Homo sapiens: one gene and its partners. The protein of the gene in region 3 purifies or fractionates together with the protein of the main gene of each other region. This does not show direct contact. Each region holds a gene or a part of one and is shown on either strand. Other genes may lie near its edges.

The links. The genes of interacting proteins can lie anywhere in the genome.
Region 1: the proteins of ZNF747 (region 3) and PKN2 purify together in Homo sapiens (co-immunoprecipitation; 2 studies listed by BioGRID and IntAct, with this or other methods). This does not show direct contact.
Region 2: the proteins of ZNF747 (region 3) and MRS2 purify together in Homo sapiens (affinity purification with mass spectrometry; 2 studies listed by BioGRID and IntAct, with this or other methods). This does not show direct contact.

The regions. Positions count from the first base shown.
Region 1 is NC_000001.11:88,799,256-88,806,281, reverse strand, and holds part of PKN2 (serine/threonine-protein kinase N2), read right to left. Parts: exon of another isoform or gene 2,491-7,026; intron 1,892-2,490; coding exon 1,748-1,891; intron 1,437-1,747; coding exon 1,361-1,436; intron 786-1,360; coding exon 611-785; intron 392-610; coding exon 265-391; intron 1-264. UniProt on the Homo sapiens protein: PKC-related serine/threonine-protein kinase and Rho/Rac effector protein that participates in specific signal transduction responses in the cell.
Region 2 is NC_000006.12:24,412,919-24,419,944, reverse strand, and holds part of MRS2 (magnesium transporter MRS2 homolog, mitochondrial isoform b precursor), read right to left. Parts: intron 4,930-7,026; exon of another isoform or gene 4,913-4,929; coding exon 4,782-4,912; intron 3,549-4,781; coding exon 3,432-3,548; intron 1,862-3,431; coding exon 1,709-1,861; intron 1,485-1,708; coding exon 1,367-1,484; intron 1-1,366. UniProt on the Homo sapiens protein: Magnesium transporter that mediates the influx of magnesium into the mitochondrial matrix and regulates magnesium metabolism. Also permeable to calcium, sodium and potassium ions.
Region 3 is NC_000016.10:30,531,845-30,539,127, forward strand, and holds the start of ZNF747 (zinc finger protein 747), read right to left. Parts: upstream 3,015-7,283; 5' UTR 2,836-3,014; coding exon 2,607-2,835; coding exon of another isoform or gene 2,467-2,606; coding exon 2,353-2,466; intron 1,308-2,352; coding exon 655-1,307; 3' UTR 1-654.

The DNA of each region.
Region 1 (7,026 bases), on a different chromosome or scaffold from region 3:
AGGAGAATGGCTTGCAGGAGAATCGCTTGAATCCGGGAGGCGGAGGTTGCAGTGAGCCGAGATCATGCCATTGCACTCCAGCCTGGGTAACAAGAGTGAAACTCTGTCTCAAAAAACAAAAACAAAAACAAAAAACAAACAAAAAACCATAAATTCACAGTTCAGTGGCAATTTTAAATGGAAAGACACGCCTTATTCACTATGATGCTTTTATTGCTAATTCATTCAGTGAAGAGGAATTATGCAAGGTTTAAAATGGCTTGCCTGTCCTGGTATATCCAAAACTCTTAATTCAGAAGATTCATCTATTTCTCCAAGAGAAGAAGCTCGTGGTGGGGCTGGAGGAGGTTCAGGCTCAAGATCAAAGTCCAATTTGGTTACTGTAGAATCACTTATAGAAGATAAAGTAACTCACCAAAACAGTAATAGAAAGTCTGTATTTTAAACAGCTTTAAAATTAAAGCAAACAATTTACTTTTTAAGTAAACAGAACACTACTTTCAAAATACTACTTGGGAAAAAAGCAAGACTCAGTACACCTGCTATAATCAGTACGTAAGAATGTCCCAATAACTTTGTATAAGAGATGCTTAAAATCTCAGACACATACCTAGCTGGAGGTGCTAGTTGAGGGATGCGTACATCAACCACTGGCACTGTAGTAGGCACAGGAGCTTGAGGGCTGAAGGTGCCAGAATGATTTACTGTAGGAATAGCTCTTCTTACTAGCCTTCCCCAAGTGGCAATATTAATATTCATTTGAGGAGCTCTGAGAAATGTTTTGCCTGTAGATGTTGAAAAAAACAAAAACAGCAAGTAATTTCTTTATGTATAACCAAAAGTCATAATTTAAAAATTCTTATCCATTAGTTTATAATCTACGAAGAACAAACAAAATTTGTCACTTAAAAAAACTAGTTTTTTACTATTTGCTAGTAAAGGCTAATGCAAAATAGCATACGTAGTTTTAAAAATAAATAGGTAAGAAATTGTTTTTTTCTCTTTAAGTCTAGTAGTAAGGTTTTAAAAATAAATCTTATCTTTTAGATATAAATTATAATAATTATGAATACATCAATATGATGTCTGGGTTTGCTTCAAATTTGAGAAAGTAGTGAGAGGATGGCATATGGATAAAATAAAATTGGCCATGAGTTGATTATTGTTGAAGCCGGGTGACTGTACATTTCACTAGTCTCTCCACTTATGGATACATTTAAAATATTCCTTAATAAGAAGTTAGAAATAAATGAATAAACAACAACAAAAAAACCCACACAGATGGCTATTACTTTTTAAATGGTAATTAGATTGTTTAAGAAAATATCAAAATGCTATGCATTTGATTGTTAGTAATTACCTTGTTGCTTTGAAAAAATTTTCTTTTGTCTTTGAAGTTTTGGTCTTCTTTCAATAACTGGATTAAAAAAGGTAACCTGCAGTGAAGAAAATTCAAGTTGACATGAAAATAGCATGGTTCATGAAATCTACTAAATTTATAAAATTTTAAAGCTTAAGAGAATCTTAGTTACAGTTTAGTCCAGCCCCTCATTTTCTACATGAGAAAACAGACATAGGAAGAATAATTGATTTGTCTCAAAGTCACATACCTATTCAGTGGCATAGCTCAGCCAAGAACTCAAGTCATCTGTCTTTCAGCCTAACACTCTTTCTACTTCTATATTATGCTGCCTACATATGTAATTTCAATTGTAGTTATGCACATTTAATAAAATACATTTATTACCTCTGCAAATAAAGTACCCTGTGGTTCCAAATAGAGACACATGCCATGCCGTTGGTTGTCTAAAAAATCTTCTAACCTCAGAAATTTTACAGCACACAGAGACCGCCAATCACGCCAATAAACTGAAATTTCCAGTTCACGTGACTAGGATAATTAAAAAAAATAATAAAGAAAACAGAAAAGACATCATTGGACACACACTTGAATAAAATATCACAAAAAATATGAAATACAAATACAATAAACAAAAATTACACACACAAAGGTCACACTGTTTTAAAGAGGTTTGTAACATTTCTCAACTGTATAGTACTTTATCAAACTTACACATTTTAATTCAAAGAAACAAAACTTACATTGTGACATTTTCCAGCTAAGGTATTCCTAAAGTATACTTAAAGAATACACAACTGGGAACAACCAATACAGATGAATAACCACCGAAACTCCTTCTCTTAGAGCTTCAATCTTTCAGATTTCCCTCCTCTATTTGCCATCATGTGCTATGTTACTACCCCAATGCTTGCTTCAAATAACTCATTTGAAACCTTTGTATTTATTTGTCTCATTGCTAAGCCAGAAAAAGTTCTGCAAATAGCATTTATTCTGTACTCACAATGTGCCACATATTGTGCTAATAAGCACTTTAAGAATATTAGGTCATTTAATTTTCAAAAGAATACCACTGGGTAGCAAGACCCATTCTGCGTACGAAAGGAAGAAAGGGGAAATTCAGACCAAGCTTTATACAGAAAGATATTCATTTATTATAACAATAAAACATAATTTAAAAAGCAAATTAGCAAGAATTTGAATGTTCAAAAACCAGGGACAAGTTAATTATACCAAAGCCGTATGAGAGAATACACAGTAGACACTGAAAATAATGCTTATGTGGCGAAATATATTTAAGGTTTTAATAACCAGTGTTTAAATGCACCTGTAGAACATAGTTCCTAAGCTGTGGCCAAACCATATACTGACCTCTACCTATATGTTTTAACGTATATACATTTTAATCATAAAGTACTGGACTTTTCTATTATTTTGTTTTTCAGGCTTCTGTACACCATCCACAAAAAGAGATAAATGTTTCTCCTTTTAAGGCTCTACAAAGCAATAAATTACTTATTTTATATAACAAATTTCAATTTATAAACTTATGCATTTCATTATGTAACGTTTTGGTATAAACAGTAAAAAAAAATCTATTGACCTTAAATTATATATCTAGTTGATGTTAATGAACACGAAAAACACTTATAAAAAATGCAACATGAAAAGAATCAAAATACAATGTGCCAGAGGGTTTCACAGTCAAACAGGAAAAGAATTAGAAAAATACGTCTATGGCAGTGAGAATGTGATCTCAGGGCCTTCCACCTCATTTCTTCTCTCTGACTCATAATTAATATGGGAGAGAACTGTCATGAAAGAAGTATGAGGAGAATATAATTAAGACTAGCAAATGGCATATAGAAGGGATGGGGTACTAAGGCTATAATATTCTATTGAAGTTAAAAGTGTTAAGTATTTTGGAAGCAGTTATTTTGTGAAATAAACTGGAGGAAGAATCATGTCAGGATTGGTAATTTAGACTCCATTTTTTTAGATTGGAGGAAGAGAGGTCTACTTTCTCCTGCTTTCTTCCACTGTTACAAGGAAGACTTGTTATGCATCAGGAAGATGCAAGATGCACATACGCTAGAGACAGAATTAATACTTGTTAAAAGTTCTTATTACACTTTTACACTGGCTAAAATGGTAAGATTTTGTCTTATTGTGAATAAGAGAAGGTCCAATCACCTCATTTGCTATTTATTCCAGCCAGTCTGGTAAAACTAACATATTGACTAATTTCTCTTTCCTCTGTCTCTTCATTCCATGCTTCAAACTAAAGTACATTATAGGCTGGGCAAGGTGGCTCATGCCTGTAATCCCAGCACTTTGGGACGTTGACGTGGGTGAATCACTTGAGGTCAGGAGTTCGAGACTAGCAACGGCCAACATGGTGAAACCCCATTTCTACTAAAAATACAAAAGTTAGCCGGGCGTGGTGCACGCACCTGTGGTCCCAGCTACTTGGGAGGCTAAGGCATGAGAATCACTTAAACCCAGGAGGTGGAGGTTGCAGTGAGCCAAGATCATGCCACTACACTCCAGCCTGGGCAACAGAGCGAGACCCTGTCTCAAAAAAAAAAAAAAATTAAAATTTATAAAGTATGTTACAGATCTGAGATTTGGGATAAGTCACCTCACAGACCTTAAGCTAGCTTTCCTAGAATTCTATACTCTACATTAAAGTTTTATGTAGAAAGTAGAAAAGTTCCTCTTCAAAGCTCATCTTGATTTAAAAATAAAATAAAAGACACTAGGAATAATAGCTCCTTACTCTAAAGCCTCCTATCAACTATCAGTTCTTACGCTTTAGCCCAGTTAGTTGCTTTGGCTTACTCAAGCATGTCTGGACAGGCCCAGGCAAGTCTTAGCTCACAGCTTATGCCCCTTCCTTATTTGGAAATGTTGTTGCTTCCTTAAACCTTTCATAAGCAACTTCCTCTTCCTCTTTGTTCTCCTTTGCATTTACCTATTTAGGAAAGTTTTAGGTTATTAGCAAATCAGTAATCAGTTTAAGACTGTGAGGTCCAGCTCCAGCCAATGGATGCAGGACACAGCAGTAAGGACAACCCAAATGCATAAGGGATATATATGTCTGCTTTTCCTTTGTTCAGGTGTGCTCTCGCGATTGTTCCATTTGCGAGGGGCACGCTTTCTGCAGAAAGTAAAGATTGCCTTGCTGAGAGATCCTTTGTCTCCGTGCTGACTTTTCTTCACGGCACCGATTATCTGTTTCTAACATTTTACATATAAAGCTCTTCATTTTTTGTTACTTTGCACTGTTCCCAGTGAGCGTTACTTTCTTCACAACATAAGTGGGAGGGTGGGGCTGTGATCTAGAGATATTTTATGTTAGTACTCCACCACTTGTGTTCAATCCCACTTTAAATCCTAACATCCAGCATGGTTTGAATAAGTAAAACAGTCACATGGTATCTGAAAAACAAGGTACCATACAGATAGACTGAAGCTTCTGCATAAGAAGATGTCACTAATGTTTACCATTTATTTTTTATTATTTTTTGTTTTTTGAGATGGGGTTTCACTCTTATTGCCCAGGCTGGAGTGCAATGGTGCAATCTCAGCTCACTGCAACCTCTGCCTCCCAGGTTCAAGTGATTCTCCTGCCTCAGCCTCCTGAGTAGCTGAGATTACAGGCACCCACCACCACACATGGCTAATTTTTGTATTTTTAATAGAGATGGGGTTTTGCCATGTTGGCTAGGCTGGTCTCGAACTCCTGACCTCAGGTGATCCACCCGTCTTGGCTCCCCCAAAGTGCTGAGATTACAGTCGTGAGCCACTGTGCCTGGCCCAATGTTTAGAATTTAAAATGCAAGTGTGATTGCTGGTACGCCGGCAATTTTCTAGATGAAGCAGGTCAGTTACACAAGGCAAGGGCATGCTGTTAGATAATTTCAAACTCTAGGAGCAACGATATTCTAGACGGAGTAAAACTACCACCAAAAAAAGCTGAGCAGTACAAGTTGAGATAGGTACTGTCCCAACTTGTGTTTCAGTTTGTCTTATTATGAATTGAATCTAGAATCAAAGAGAAAACTGCTTGGTAGACTTAAAGAATCTGCATGTCTTATCTGAAGTCTAAGATCTGAAAGTAAACAAAAAAGGTAAGAGACACTGCATCAGCCTTATGTGTGGTAGAAAGCAACAAATTAAAACATGTATTGCAATTGAAAAAAGAACAGTACACATCTATCATAAAAGAATTAGCACAAAGAATGCTGAGGTTCTCGAAGTGTTCACTGAGGAGCCCTGGGGTGCCAGAGAGTATTTTCACTTTTCATAGGGAACACAGCGACATCTATGGGACACTGTGAGAACTACTAGCGAAAGGTAGTTCATAGTTTCAACATTAGAATATTCCATATTCCTTCTGGTGATGTCATAAACCCATCTTTGCTAAGGTGGGTTTTCAACAATAAAAAGCAACTTCCTATGAAGAATCACTGTGGAAGAAGACATGAGAGTGCAGTTATCCTTATGATCCCAAGATGTGGGAAGTTATATAGTGTACAACAGGCAGACATGTCCCATTAGTTAATTGTAATCATGTACTAATGGAATAAAAATATTACGTTTTCTCTCAGTATTTGTATTTTTCAAAAACTCCTGTTTTAAGACTTAAAATACTAACTAGTAAGCACTTCTTAATAAATGGAACTGTTGGGTATTTCTTTAGGTCTAGGGACACACTGCAGAAACATTACAAGGACACTGAGGACACTGAATTGAGAAAGTCTGGAAACTTTGATAGAAGTGGAGAGCTGGGCTCCACTGCTGAAATGAAAAGGGCAAAAGAAGAAAATGAGAACCAGGCTCCACCGCCAAAAAGAAAAGAAAGGTCAAAAAAGCTTTCTGTTGCCACTAAAAAACAGAATAAACTCAATACCTGGAAAATTCAAGAGCTGAGGAAAGATGAGATTTCTGCAAACGTGTACACGAGCGATGATATTGGTCTTCAATGTGCCTCTGAGGACAACATAGGCTTTGGAAATTTATCAGTGAGGGTCCTAGCAGCATGCAGATAGTACACTGAAAGAGTTTAACTAAAGAGAGTTTTTTAAATTGGCTACTTATGGAGATGTGATTAAAGTTAAACCAACAAGGAATGAAAAGAATCTGAGGACAAGCAACAGTAGAAATCCATTATCACTCTTAGCCTGAAGGGGCAAGAGGAACTTAAATCATTGCCAGAATCTGATTTAGACTAAATCTTAAAAAAGGAACTACCCGACAGGAGTTGGTGGCCATAGATGAATGCTGTTGTGAAAAGCAAGGCAAGGCAAGGAAGGAGAAAGGGAAATACACACTGCGACTTTCCTTTCCTCCTAGCTCTTGGATCTCTTAACAGTGTCTCTCATTGTAAGTCAGAGCCAAGTAATTCAAGTGAACTTTGTAGTCATCAGCCCAAAAACAGGGTAGGACAGGGAAGGAAGGACAATGGAATCCACTGGGGAAAAACAGAAAACCACCACCTCAAGAAACAATAATATATGTTTTCAGTTCAGCAGTCCAATGAGAGTGATTCTCCAGCTGGAACAAATGTGACAAAAAGAGGGAAACTTTGGGATCATATGGGAGGATGAGAAATACAGAGACAACAGTAGGAGACAGAGATAATGGAGACTATTAAGGCCATG
Region 2 (7,026 bases), on a different chromosome or scaffold from region 3:
GAATCCAGCATCACACTGTGCCAGATGCACATCCAGGTTCAGTTCTAGAAAACTTACAATAAGCTATTCTGTGAAAACACAGTCAGTGGGTTCTGTATCTGCAGATATGCAAGGTTGACTGTACTGGGTCATTTTATATCAGAGACTTGAATACCCACAGACTTTGGTATCTGTGGGGATCCTGTAACCAATTCTTCTTGGATACTGAGGGATGACTGTACAAAACCACAGTGAAATGAAAAACTCTGGGAGTTAAGTATTATCTTAATACAGAAAGGCAACAGAGCAGTAGAAAGTGCAAGTCTTTGGGGTCATGTCCTAATTCTGTTATTTTTCCAGCTCTATGCCTGTGGGCAAGTTAAATGTTCTGAGCCTCAGTCTTCTCATCTACAAAGTAGGGATAATATATCTATTTTCAGAGTTGCAATGATTGAGCCAAATAAAGTATGCAAACCGCCTGGTACGTTGCCAGACATGTAAGAATTAAAAAATAAAAACTCTTCATTAACACTGCTTCACAGAGACACTGTTTTATCACACCTTTCCCATCTGTAATTATATGTTTTGGGAAACAAAGTAACCTAGGCTGTATTTATCTAGGTTATAACATGGTCCAACAGTACTGCCTGAATTGTGAGTTACATTATATATTTTATTTCACCATGGTAGTTTACAGGTTAGACTTTTTATTTATTTATTTTTTGAGACAGAGTCTCACTCTGTCCTGTCGCCCAGGCTGGAGTGCAGTGGTGTGATCCTGGCTCACTGCAAGCTCCGCCTCCCAGGTTCATGCCATTCTCCTGCCTCAGCCTCCGGAGTAGCTGGGACTACAGGCGTCTGCCACCACGCCCGGCTAATTTTTTGTATTTTTAGTAGAGACAGGGTTTCACCGGGTTAGCCAGGATGGCCTCGATCTCCTGACCTCGTGATCTACCTGCCTCAGCCTCCCAAAGTGCTGGGATTACAGGCGTTGAGCCAAGGTGCCCAGCCTTTATTTTTTAAATCCATTAAAAATATCGATCTTCAAAACCCAATCTTTTTTTTTGGAGACAGAGTCTCACTCTGTCTCCCAGGCTGGAGTGCAACGGCGCGATCTCAGCTCACTGCAACCTCCGCCTCCCGGGTTCAAGTGATTCTCCTGCCTCAGCCTCCCAAGTAGCTGGGATTACAGGTGCCTGCCACCGTGCCTGTCTAATTTTTGTATTTTTAGTAGAGACAGGGTTTCGCCATGTTGGCCAGGTTGGTCTCAAACTCCTGACCTCAGGTGATCCACCTGCCTCAGCCTCCTAAAGTGCTAGGATTACTGACATGAGCCACCATGCCCGGCCAAAACCCCCAAGTTTTAGAAATAATAATACATTCTCACCTCTTCAAGGGAAGATTCCAAATTCATTCCAAAAGCAACTCCCATTAGTCCAAAGAGCGAAAGAGAGAAGGTTCCCATGGTCAGCTGTAGATTCAACCTCATCATCACGTTTCGGTGGCTGGAGAGGAGAACACCTATTCAGATTAGAAGGGCCCACTAACTATATACAGCACATTCATCAAATCTATACAGACCACATGGATGAAACCTACACAACAAAAAAAATAATAATAATGTAGTATAGATGATAATGATGGCGTAATTCCTCACAAAATATTTCCTTAAAAACTTTCTTATAATTATTTTATTAAAAAAACTTAGTTTTATATAATGCTTTCTTACCTGTCCAGATTAATGAAAATAATACTTTGTGAATCATCAATCAGCACCCTAAGCTCACGAGCTGCATTGGAGAGATCGTCAGCCAATCGGTAGTAGTTTTCCAACAGCAACTCCATCTCTTCTGCATGGTCAATCCCAGCACTGCTCTTTTCACTTCAATTAAAAGAGAAAATAATTAACATACTCCCAACATGTGTATCATATACTTAGTGACAAAAACTTCCTAAATTAGTATATAGCATTCAGCTACCAGTGGAAAAGCTAGCCTTTGTCTTGTCTTGTCTTTTTTTTTTTTTGAGATGGAGTTTCACTCTGCTCCCAGGCTGGAGTGTAGTGGCGCGATCTCGGCTCACTGCAACCTCTGCCTCCCAGGTTCAAGCTGTTCTCCTGCTTCAGCCTCCCCAGTAGCTGGGACTACAGGTGCCCGCCACCACGCCCAGCTAATTTTTGTATTTTTAGTAGAGATGGGGTTTCACCATATTGGACAGGCTGGTCTCGAACTCCTGACCTTGTGATCTGCCTGCCTCGGCTTCCCAAAGTGCTGGGATTACAGGCATGAGCCACAGCGCCTGGCTGCCTTTGTCTTTTCTATTGTTGTGGCCAATCTGTGAGTACCTATGTCAACTGATCCAAAACACTTTACAGATGAGTTGAGGACAGAGGTTCCATCCTTATGTAGACCAGTTGGTGTCACTGTATTACATGGCCCCAATCCAAGAGATTTTTATGCAGATACATGCTGCCAGTTACAGGAAAATCCAGATATGTGAATGCAGATGAATTAGTGCAAAGCCAATACCACTATCAGGTAAAACAAAATCCACAACTAAAAATGTCAAGACCATTTCCTTTTGAGGTGTGTACATAATGTGATTTCATATAAAGAAAATGTTTTTGAATGATATCAGTAATAACTTTGCTCCCCTACCCTACCAAGAAGGGTAAGGGGGAATGAAGTACTCTGAAGAGGTACCTGTATCATAAAGCATATTAGAGACAGATTGACAGATTGGCCTAAGCAAAGCAAACAGTTTCTGCTACCATACCTATCGGCTATCTACCAAATGTTATATAGCCCCCTTTATCTTATTATTTCCTTATCAGGATATAAATAACCAATTTTTCAAAGTGCTGTAAGAAAATCTGTACAGACTGTGGAAACTAAACTCATTACAAAGGTGTATTAATTTCTGATACTGCTCTAGAAAGACAATAACAAAATATTTGGGTATTTAAAAGTAAACATTTAGCTGGAGTGTGCACAAGAAGCATAAACAATTTCTAAATTCATAAAAGATAAAAGGTTTATAAGATTAACATTTTCATTAGACTGAACTTACATAATCCATGTTAATGTGTTACTCGTGTATTTACCCCATCTTTTCCCTCCCCCATGTAAATTTCTCTCCCACTCTGCTTCCTAGGTAAGTTATTTTGGTAGATGTATATGCCAATCTGGTGGTCAGTCCCTTGAATATAAAGGTAACTGTGTGTTTATATTCACCACATGTCAGCAGTGTTGGGTATGCAGTATGCATACTCATAGAATTACATTGAATTAGATACGATACTGCACAGGAAAAAAGGGAAACTGGGGATGAAAAATCTCTATATTCTGTAGTCCAGAAAAATGTTACATTCTGTATGAAAAATCACCTTGAAGTGGAAAAGGCAAAAGATTTACTCTAAGGAAATAAATAACAAAGTATAATTATATACTTACAAGACTTGTGGGTCACTCCATTTTGATACACAGAGCTCTTCTAGCAACTCTTCCTCATCCAAGATCTCCAAAATTGACTCTTTGAAAATTTTAATATCTGTTTCTAACTCTGATAGACTATAAGAAATAGATACACAAAAATGATCAATAGAATAAACTTATAAGAACATTTCATAATAGTGTTTTTAGAGTATCTTATCAAATATATTATCTTATACATTCATGCTAAACAATGACTTATTTAAAAAAAAAAAAAAAGTTGAGTATTTACCAGGCAAATTAAGAATCAATTTGGCCAGGCATGGTGTCACGCCTGTAATCCTAGCACTTTAGGAGGCCAAGGCAGGAGGATTGCTTGAGCTCAGGAGTTTGAGACCCTCCTGGACAACAGTGAGATCTTGTCTCTACAAAAAAATTTAGAAAATTAGCTGGGCATGGTGGCATGTGCCTGCAGTCCCAGCTACTTGGGTGGTGGAGGTGGGAGGATTGCTGAAGGTTAAGGCTGCAGTGAGCTGAGACTGCACCACTGCACTCCAGCCTGGGCAACGGAGTGAAACCCCGTCTCAAAAACACCCACAAAAAACCCAAACCAAGGCTGCAGTGAGCTGAGACTGCACCACTGCACTCCAGCCTGGGCAACGGAGTGAAACCCTGTCTCAAAAACACCCACAAAAAACCCAAACCAGATCTAAATTAATTGGTAAAATTATCAGTGATATAAATTTCATCATACATTACTTATCTCAGAAACATAAATCGCTTGTGAATTTAAGATTTTTGGTTTGGGAATTTTATTAATCAACATGGCAGTGATAATATAGAACAGACTAGTTACTCTTAACTGATAAAAACACTCCAACATTTTTGGATAAGAAACTACTGATTCAGGAATTTTAAATGTTAATTCTTGAAGGGATTTCGGGAGTATAACTCCTGAGAGCATGTTTATTCTATTTATGATACATATATAATATTGTTATTAAATTCTGGAATGCATTATGATTTTAAAGAAAAAGAACAACATGGACTTTGAATTTGGATTTAGATCTGCCATTTACTAGCCATATAAATTTAGGCAAGTTACTCAAACCTCAATTTTCTCATCTTCAAAATGAAGACAATATCAACTATTGAATGGGTGATGAGATGAGATCACATACGGAAAAGAGCCTTACATGACATTTCATGCAAAGTATCTTTTCAACAAACAGTAGATTGTGTGCCCCTTTTAGCTCAACTTCCCACCTAGGCTACTTTCATACTTTAAAAAAAGTTATGAAACAAAATGTTAATAATTGATTTTAAGATATTTGTCTCCAACTCCCAATGTGATACATCATCCATATTTACCTTTTGCCATTCTGTAGTAAAATGTGCAGTTTGCTTCTGTCTACAGAAGAATGTTTGGGGTCCACCAAAGCATCCAAGGTCTCAAGGATCAGTGGCTGCAAAATGCTAAGTTTCCCCTGAAGGGTGTTGATCTAGATAACAACATGACCTTTCATAAGAATTAAAACAATCTTTTTAGAATATTCAGGATCAGTGAATCCTCTGATTAAATACAGAAATCTGTAGTAGCTTGAAATGCTGGTAACATTTCAGAACATAGATAATTCTAGAATGCCTATTCCAGATGATTCAAAAACTAGATCCTCTGGGTTCAAAGAACTATGTATGATGTTATCTTTAGGCACAGATTTGGTTGACAAGGAGCTAACTCTCGTAAGAGTCTTTCTCCTCCCGCCCGGCCAGCCGCCCCGTCCGGGAGGTGAGGGGCACCTCTGCCCGGCCGCCCCGTCTGGGAAGTGATGAGCCCCTCTGCCCAGCCGCCACCCCGTCTGGGAGGTGTACCCAACAGCTCATTGAGAACGGGCCACGATGATGATGGCGGTTTTGTCGAATAGAAAAGGGGGAAATGTGGAGAAAAGAAAGAGAGATCAGATTGTTACTGTGTCTGTGTAGAAAGAAGTAGACATAGGAGACTCCATTTTGTTCTGTACTAAGAAAAATTCTTCTGCCTTGGGATGCTGTTAATCTATAACCTTACCCCCAACCCTGTGCTCTCTGAAACATGTGCTGTGTCCACTCAGGGTTAAATGGATTAAGGGCGGTGCAAGATGTGCTTTGTTAAACAGATGCTTGAAGGCAGCATGCTCGTTAAGAGTCATCACCACTCCCTAATCTCAAGTACCCAGGGACACAAACACTGCGGAAGGCGGCAGGGTCCTCTTCCTAGGAAAACCAGAGACCCTTGTTCACATGTTTATCTGCTGACCTTCCCTCCACTATTGTCCTATGACCCTGCCAAATCCCCCTCTCCGAGAAACACCCAAGAATGATCAATAAATACTAAAAAAATTTAAAAAAAAAAGTCTTTCTCCTATAGACATTCATTATGAAGTAATGAGGGATCAAGTAAAATAAAATCTGCTATTATTAAAACACAAGCTTTCAGTAATACCTGTGTTCTCTGTAAACAGAATATGGTTCAAAATTCCTACAAAGCTCTTTGAAAATAAAAACTTGAGCTTTAAAACATAAACATATCAGAGTAAAGTCAAAAATAGACTATTTAGGTTAACACAAGTATGGTTTGATATTTGATATTCGGCAGGTATGCACTAATCCTGCTATATAGTTGTTAAAATACTGAAACACTTCCATGCCAGTTGGCAAATAGCATATACTAACTAAATCAAGCGGTAAAACTGATGACGTAAATTACAGCATATAGTCTTTATCTCAGAAGCACAATTACTGTGAAACAGATTTTTTTATTTGGAAACAAGTCCAGAGTCACAGTGCCTCTGCAGACATGTTGTTTATTTCGTCTCCAGAGGAACTGCTTCCGGGTTAAGAAGTCCTTGGGTGGGAGGGAAGACTGGACAGCCAAATAGGCAGACCACATCTTTTAATCTAAGAGATATCAAACCCTCTGCTCAGCAAGGTGTGGACTTTTGTAGTGGTTGGGGAGGCTGCTGAGGGTCACAGATAGGGTATTTGTGAGGCATATCTACTCATGGTATGTCTTGGTCCCTTAGGTGGGTTTGGGGAGCTTTCCCTTGTTCGAAAACTTATCCCTTTTGAGAGGTGGCTGGTCTTGCTTCTATGTAGTGTTGTTTCGTAAGGAAATCTTCCTGGGACCCCATTTAAAGGAAGAAGAATGTGTATCCCAGCAGACATCCTGAACTCCCTCTCTATTCTCCCCACAGCCAATCTCTAGGCCGGAGACCCATGCCAGCCTAGCCTCTCTCCTTCCCCTCCTGCTCCCTTTAAGATCCCTGTCTTTCTCCTAACAGCATGAGCTCCTGAGAGCTTACCCAGCCTGTGGAGCCCATGACTTACCACTGTTTACATCTTCTTTCTCTCTTCTGCTTTCCCCCTGCTTGGTAACTGGGCTCCCACTACTTATCATCTCACTGGCTGGTGCTAGCTGGTGCTCATTAATTACCCCAAGCAGGAAGTGTAGCCATCTATTCTTTCAGAGCAAGGCAGACAAAAGAAAAGTGTGCCAGGTTCACCCAACCCAATGCACCTCATGTCCTCTCTACCCTCTCTCCTCCTCCCACTCTGGTTAGTATGCTCCCAGCACCAA
Region 3 (7,283 bases):
TCAAAGAATAAAAAAGAAAAGGCCAGGTGAGGTGGCTCACGCCTGTAATCCCAGCACTTTGGGAGGCAGAGGTGGGTGGATCACCTGAGGGCAGGAGTTCGAGACCAGCCTAGCCAACATGGTGAAACCCCATCTCTACTAAAAATACAAAAAGTTAGCCGGGCATAGTGGCAGGTGCCTGTAATTCCAGCTACTTGGGTGGCTGAGGCAGGAGAATCGCTTGACTCCAGGAGGTGGAAGTTGCAGTGAGTCGAGATCGCACCATTGCACTCCAGCCTGGGCAACAAGAGCAAAACTCCGTCTCAAAAAATTAAAAAAGTAAAAAGAAAAAGACAACAGAGAAAACAAGGTTCTTCTCTACCTCAATCCTCTTAGCATCTCTGGGAGGAGAAACAGCTTTTGCTTCCCTGTATGGAGGTCTGGGGGGTTCTCACCTCAGCCCTGCCTCAGCAAAGGGGGCCTTGGAGAGCCCAGGGCAGCGGGGAGCAAGGTGCTGGCAGAAGAGGCTGCTGAGAGCCCAAGATCAGACTGTCCGCACCCCAGGCCAGCTCTTGCGGTGGATTCTGGGACCTCCCTGCAGGCCGCTGCAGAGGTTCGGGCCCCTGAGCCCATCTCGGGCCGCCCACAATGTCTAGATGGTCACTTTTTAGGCCGTCACCCACATTCCTGGAATATCTCTGGATACAGCTGGAAGCCCACAGGCGGGTCCAGGTCCCCGCGGACAGGAGTCAGGGTCACAGACAGCCCCCCAGGGCGCCGGCCCCTACGCCCCTCGCCCCCGGGCCGATGGACCCATTGGTGCTTGGCCATGCCGGTCTTCAGGCCGAAGCAGCGGCCACACTGCGGGCAGCGGTAGGGCTTCTCGCCAGTGTGAACGCGCAGGTGAGAAGTCAGCGCCGTGCGGCGCATGAAGGCCCGACCACACTCGGGACAGCGGTGGGGCCGCTCCCCACGATGGATGGCCCGGTGTTTGCTCAGGGAGGAAGCGTGGCCGAAGCCCTTGCCGCAGTCTGCGCAGTGGAAGGGCTTCTCGCCCCTGTGGCTGTAAATGTGCTCCACCAGTGTGGAGCGCCAGGCGAAGCTCTTCCCGCACACGTAGCAGCCGTGACGCTGGTCAGCTCGGGGGACAGGGGGGTGGGCAAAAAAGCGGGGGCGACTCCGGCGCCGGGCCTTGGACAGCTGCTCCAACCCGGCAAAGGGGGCTTGGGGAGCCTTCAGCCCAGGAGACCCGGCGGCCACAGGGTCGGGCTTCTCCAGGGCTCCCGTCCCTTCCCTTTGTCTTTCCTCTTCCTTGTTTCTGGAATCTGCTGAAAGATAAGGAGGCGAGAGTTCAGGCTTGGCTCATCCTGGTCATTGAATCCCACAGCCCGCGTGGACAGGGACAGGCCTGCTGGACCCCCGACTGCTCCTAGGAGATGGAGGAGTGACACCTGTTCCTCGGCTGCAGAGCCAGACAGAGCCTGGAGGGAGGGAACAGTCCATTCCGCCTCCGGGCTGGGGAAATGTCACCGCGGGGGAAGGGCAGAGATGACGTGAACATCTGGGCCTGATCTGGAATAAGAAGCGGACACCTGGGGATATTCCAGGCAGAAGGAACAGCACCAAGAAAGGCAGAACCAGGAGGGCATGGCCAAGTTCAGTGGGGCTGGATACTCTGCAAAAGCTGAGGCAAGAACTAAAGGAAGGAAATGGGAGGGCGGGATGTGGGGGCATAGGAACCATAGTGCAGGAAAACGACTGGAGCGGGTCATGATGTGGAGGTAGAGTCAACAGAACCTAGAGGCCGGGTGCAGTGGCTCATGCCTGTAATCCCAGTGCTTTGGGAGGCCGAGATAGAGGATCGCTAGAGTTCGAGACCAGCTCGGGCAACACACCAAGACCTCTACCTCTTTAAAATTTTTTTAATTAAAAAAAAAAAAAAAAAACCAGCCAGGCGTGGTGGCGAGTGCCTTTACAGTGTTAGGTACTCTGGAGGCCCACGCGGGAGGATTGGTTGAGCCGATTGCTTGAGCCCGGGAGTTCAAGACTGCAGTGAGCTATGATGGCGCCACTGCACCTCAGCCTGGGCAACAGAGACCCTGTCTCTAAAACAAAACAAAACAAAAAAGTCCCCGGAGTGTAGTGACCACGCAGAGGTGAGGACTCAGGGGCGGGTATGGCAGGGCCAGAGCCCCCATCACAGCCCCTTTCTAGGCTGCATCCCGGAGCCAGGCAGGGGCTCAGCCTCCTGGCCGCAGTTGAGGAGGCAGTTCAGAGAGGAAACTGCTAAGCAGGTAGCTGGAGGTGGCAGAGGGTACCGGGATGGGACAGGAACAGAGAAGTCCCCATGGGACTGAGCACCCGATACTCCACCTGGGTCCGCTTCTGTCGGACACTTCGCCACCTCCGGATCCTGGGCAGCCGGATCCCACAGTTCGGCCTTCTCCTCCACCCAGGAGATGAGCGCCGGCTTGCTGCCTCCGACTCCTGGGGGAGAAGAACGCAAACCCCACGCTGCGAGGAGGCCGCCTGCCCGGCCCCGGGGCCCCCAACTCCACACGCAGCTCCCAGAGGCGCGGCAGGGCCTGTGGAGGCGCAGGGCCCAGGCAAGCAGGTGGGGCTCTCACCGAGCGCGCCCAGGTGGCCGTAGGTCTCCCGCATCACGTCCCGGTACAGGGCCCTCTGCGCGGGCCGCAGGCAGCCCCACTCCTCCCGGGAGAAGTACACGGCCACGTCGGCGAAGCTCACGGCCCCGGGCTTTCTCCACTCGGATCCCGCCCCGTTTGGGTCCCGGGGAGGGAGCGGGGCCAGAGGCGGCGCCATGGGGACTGTCAGCCCCAGCGACGGATCGGTCATCTCCCCTGGCCAGGCCTGGGCATGCGGAACCTCCCGCGCCCGAGAACACTTCCCCGGCCCGGTACCAAGGGAAGGAGGGACGTCAGTAGAGCCCCCGAAGGCCCACTAGAGGGGATGGAAACTAAGGGCCGATGGCTGCGAGTCCATGGTCAGAACTGGACGATGTCTTCAAATAAAACGGCGGCAGCGCGACCTCTCGACCTTTGCCCCTGCGCAATTGTACCCACGACGACGCCCCCCTCCCCGCGCCCCCGCTCCAGGCCCAGTTCTCTCCTTGCCCTAATCCAAAATGGCCGTTGCGGCTACAGGCGCCGGCCTTGAAAACCAGCCGCGCATGCTCCGGCCCCGCCAGGTGAGGCGGCGCAGCTCAGAGCTTCCGCCCGGGTTTGCGGGAACAAAGCAGCGCCCTGCGGAAGGCAGCCCTCGTGAACTCAGAAGTTAGTTTTCGTCTCTGGACCTTTTTATAATCGGACTTCAGCCCATCACTGTCTCGTTTTGTCCTCAGAAACGGCGACAGCAGCCTCTTCCCAATGTTGAGAGCAAAAAGTGTGAACCCAGAAATTCCGAGACAGATCTCAATTACTTGCCAAGGTTGAGGACGCGCGCGTGACAGCCTCAGGAAGTCCTCACGACATGTGCCCAAGGTGGTCTGGGCATAGCTTAGTTTTATACATTTTATGGAGACATGAGACATCAATAAATGTATGTAAGAAGTACATTGGTTCTGTTTGGAAAGGCGGGGCAACTTGAAGCAAAGGCAGGAAGACGTGAAGCAGGAAGGGGGCTTCCAAGAAACAGAAGGTGAGGCACAAACGGTTGCATTCTTTTGAGATTCTGATTAGCGTTTCCAAAGGAGGCAATCAGATATGCATCTGTGTCAGCCAGCAAAGGGGTGACTTTGAATAGACTGGGAGGCAGGTTGGCCCTAAGCAATTCCCAGCTTGACTTTTTCCTTTAGCGTAGTGATTTGGGGGGGTCCCAAGATTTATTTTCCTTTCACAAAAGCCATGGAGTGGATACAGGAGAACCTCCTCTATTGTAGGCTTTTTGGAGCTTGAAATTCTGGGAGCTTCTAGATGGCGGAAGCAGCGGGGAGAATAGGGTAAGGCTGAGAAAGTCAGAGGGCCCTCTCTTCTAGGAGCTTCTCCCATGTGCTGTGCAGGACGCCTCCCGACCGCCTGTCTCCCTCTAGCTGCAGCCAGGCTCTTGGCTTCCCTGACGTCCTGCCCCTGCGCGGATGGCCCAAGGCTCCTAGGCTCAAACCCAGCTCATCCCTTTCTTACCCCAACCTGCTTCCCCTGGGGTCTTTATCTCAGTAAAAGTCGCCAGCTCTCCCCTGAGACCTCCTTCTCACACTTCCTGATGGCCTACTCTGTGCTCCACGTGACTTCATACATGTCCTGTGTACTGGAGTCAGAGTCACCTCCAACGCGCCTTTTAGCTCTTAGTGGGTTCTTTAGTTGAATCTAGGCCCAGATTGAGAATCGCCTGTAATCCTGGCGCCTGGGAGGTCGGGGCAAGAGGATTCCTTGAGTCCAAGAGAATGAGATCAGCCTGCTCAACTTAGGAGACCCTATCTCAAAAATAAATAAGAAAAAATGAATCGACAGCAGACAGACTAACAGGAGGAAAGAATACAAATTGTACCTGTTTTACATGTACTCAGGCATCTTCACAAGAGAGAGCAGTCAGAAAAAGTGGCTGAAGCCAGGTGCTTTTATATTTCTTTTCTTTTTTTTTTTTTTGCAGAGACAAGTGAACATTTATTTTTATGTCTTTCTTCCTATGTGTATTTCAAGTCTTTTTCAAAACAAGGCCCCAGGACTCTCCAGATTCAATTATGTCCTTGGGCTTGGTCGACTGCTGCAGGAGTCTTAAGGAGCCTTGTGCAAATGCTAGAGTGACTCATTTACCAACATTAAACCCTAGGATAGATGCAACAGAGAAGTACTACTTCCTCCATGGAATGTGCTGATTTCAGGCGACGTGGCACCCAATGTAGAAAACGCTGGAATTTTTCCTTGGAACTGGACTGTGATGAGAGGTGCTTGCCATGAACATAAGCTACTGTCTTTTTTTTCTTTTTTTGAGACGGACTTTCACTTTTTTTGCCCAGGCTGGAGTGTAATGGCGCGATCTTGGCTCACCGCAACCTCCGCCTCCCAGGTTTGAGTGATTCTCCTACCTTAGCCTCCTGAGTAGCTGGGATTACAGGCGTGCGCCACCATTCCCAGCTAATTTTTGTATTTTTAGTAGACACAGTGTTTCTCCATGTTGGTCAGGCTGGTCTCAAACTCCTGACCTCAGGTGATACGCCCGCCTCAGCCTCCCAAAGTGTTGGGATTACTGGCGTGAGGCATCGTGCCCAGCAAGCTACTGTCTTTTCTTTGACCCTTTCCAGTTTTTGAAGATAAAGCAGGAAATAATCTTCTCTGAAAGTACTTGATAAAAATTCCCAAAACAACAAAAACACATGCTTCCACTTCATTGATAAAAATTTACTGCGGTTTGGCACCTGGGTCTAGTTCAGCTGGCAGATGAGCTGATTGATGCGTTAACCCCCACAGCCAGGTGTGCCCATCTCCTTGAGGAAGCCCACTCTATTTTTGGTAGCATGACGGGCCACTGAAAGGTGGAAAGGGCGCAAGAACCATGAGATCTCCTGGAAATGCTTCCCTGGGAAGGCAATTTCATGAATGAGGTCTTCCAAGCAAATGACGCCAAACTTCCCCAGGTCCTCCTCAATCACTGTGTTGTCTGTCAGAGGGATGGTCTTATTCTTTTTTTTTTTTTTTTTTTGAGACAGAGTTTCGCTCTGTCGCCCAGGCTAGAGCGCAGTGGTGCAATCTCGGCGCACTGCAAGCTCCACCTCCCAGGTTCACGCCATTCTCCTGCCTCAGCCGCCCAAGTAGCTGGGACTACAGGCGCCCACCACCGCGCCGGACTAATTTTTTGTATTTTTAGTAGAGACGGGGTTTCACTGTGTTAGCCAGGATGGTCTCGATCTCCTGACCTCATGATCCACCCATCTTTGGCCTCCCAAAGTGCTGGGATTACAGGCGTGAGCCACTGCGTCTGGCCGATGGTCTTATTCTTGACCTTGGCTTGTCCATGTTTCAAAATGAATTCCCAGACAGACTTCAGATTTGGAAATCCTCAGGTCACATAAGGTTCCACTATACGCAGCATTTTTAAAAAGACACCACTAAAAATTTTCTTCAGGCAAAGTCTTGCAATGGTTCTCTGCACCAGTAAACTCCCGCCATCAATCCTTTTGATGCGTACAACAAAGGCCAAGGAACATTTATCCGGCAATTCCAAGGCGTGAGGTTGCACTTCTAGTTGTCTTGAGATGCACCTTGTCACGTTTCTCCTGCCAGGAATCATGTAGGAATGATTCCAGTCACTTAAACCTGAGCCCTTTTCCTTTCCTCTGCTCCTTTGCCAAAAATGCCTGCTTTGCCTGGGTGGCTTTGAGGGCTTGATAAGCCTTCCTATTTTTCAGGAGATTTTCTGGAACCAAAGGAATTTTTCTGTGCTCTTGCTCTGCCATCTTTCTAGTGGTGCAGCTACTGATCATTATATTTCTTTCTTTTTTTATTTTGAGACGGAGTCTCACTTTGTCACCCAGGCTGGAGTGCAGTGGCGCGATCTCAGCTCACTGCAAGCTCTGTCTCCCGGGTTCACGCCATTCTCCTGCCTCAGCCTCCCGAGTAGCTGGGACTACAGACGCCCACCACCACGCCTGGCTAATTTTTCTGTATTTCTAGTAGAGACGGGGTTTCACCGTGTTAGCCAGGATGGTCTCAATCTCCTGACCTCGTGATCCGCTCATCTCTGCTTCCCAAAGTGCTGGGATTACAAGTGTGAGCCACCACGCCCGGCCTGTATTTCTTAAATAACCATAATTTTTTTTTTTTTTTTGAGATGGAGTTTTGCTCTTATTGCCCAGGCTGGCGTGCAATGGCGCAATCTCTGCTCACTGCAACCTCTGCCTCCCGGGTTCAAGCGATTCTTCTGCCTCAGCACCCCGGGTAGTTGGGACTACAGGCATGCACCACCACACCCGGCTAATTTTGGATTTTTAGTAGAGATAGGGTTTCACCATGTTGGTCAGGCTGGTCTTGAACTCCTGACCTCAGGTGATCCACCCACCTTGGCCTCCCAAAGTGCTGGGATTACAGGCGTGAGCCACTGCACCTGGCCAAGAACAATAAATTTTAAAAGAAATGACAGGACGAAGAAAATCTGGCTAGGGCAGTAAAATTTTCAAGGGGAGATCTGTGTGGGTTGGGGGGGCATCAAACAGGTGGAAGATATGGATTACTTTGTTAAGTGTGTTTATTCTGGTCCCTTGGGGCCTCTAAGGGCTATTTTCTCACCCTGGGGAGAGGAGGCAAAAAGTTTGGGAGGGGCATAAGGATTCATTGTTGCCCAGGGGGTGTGTT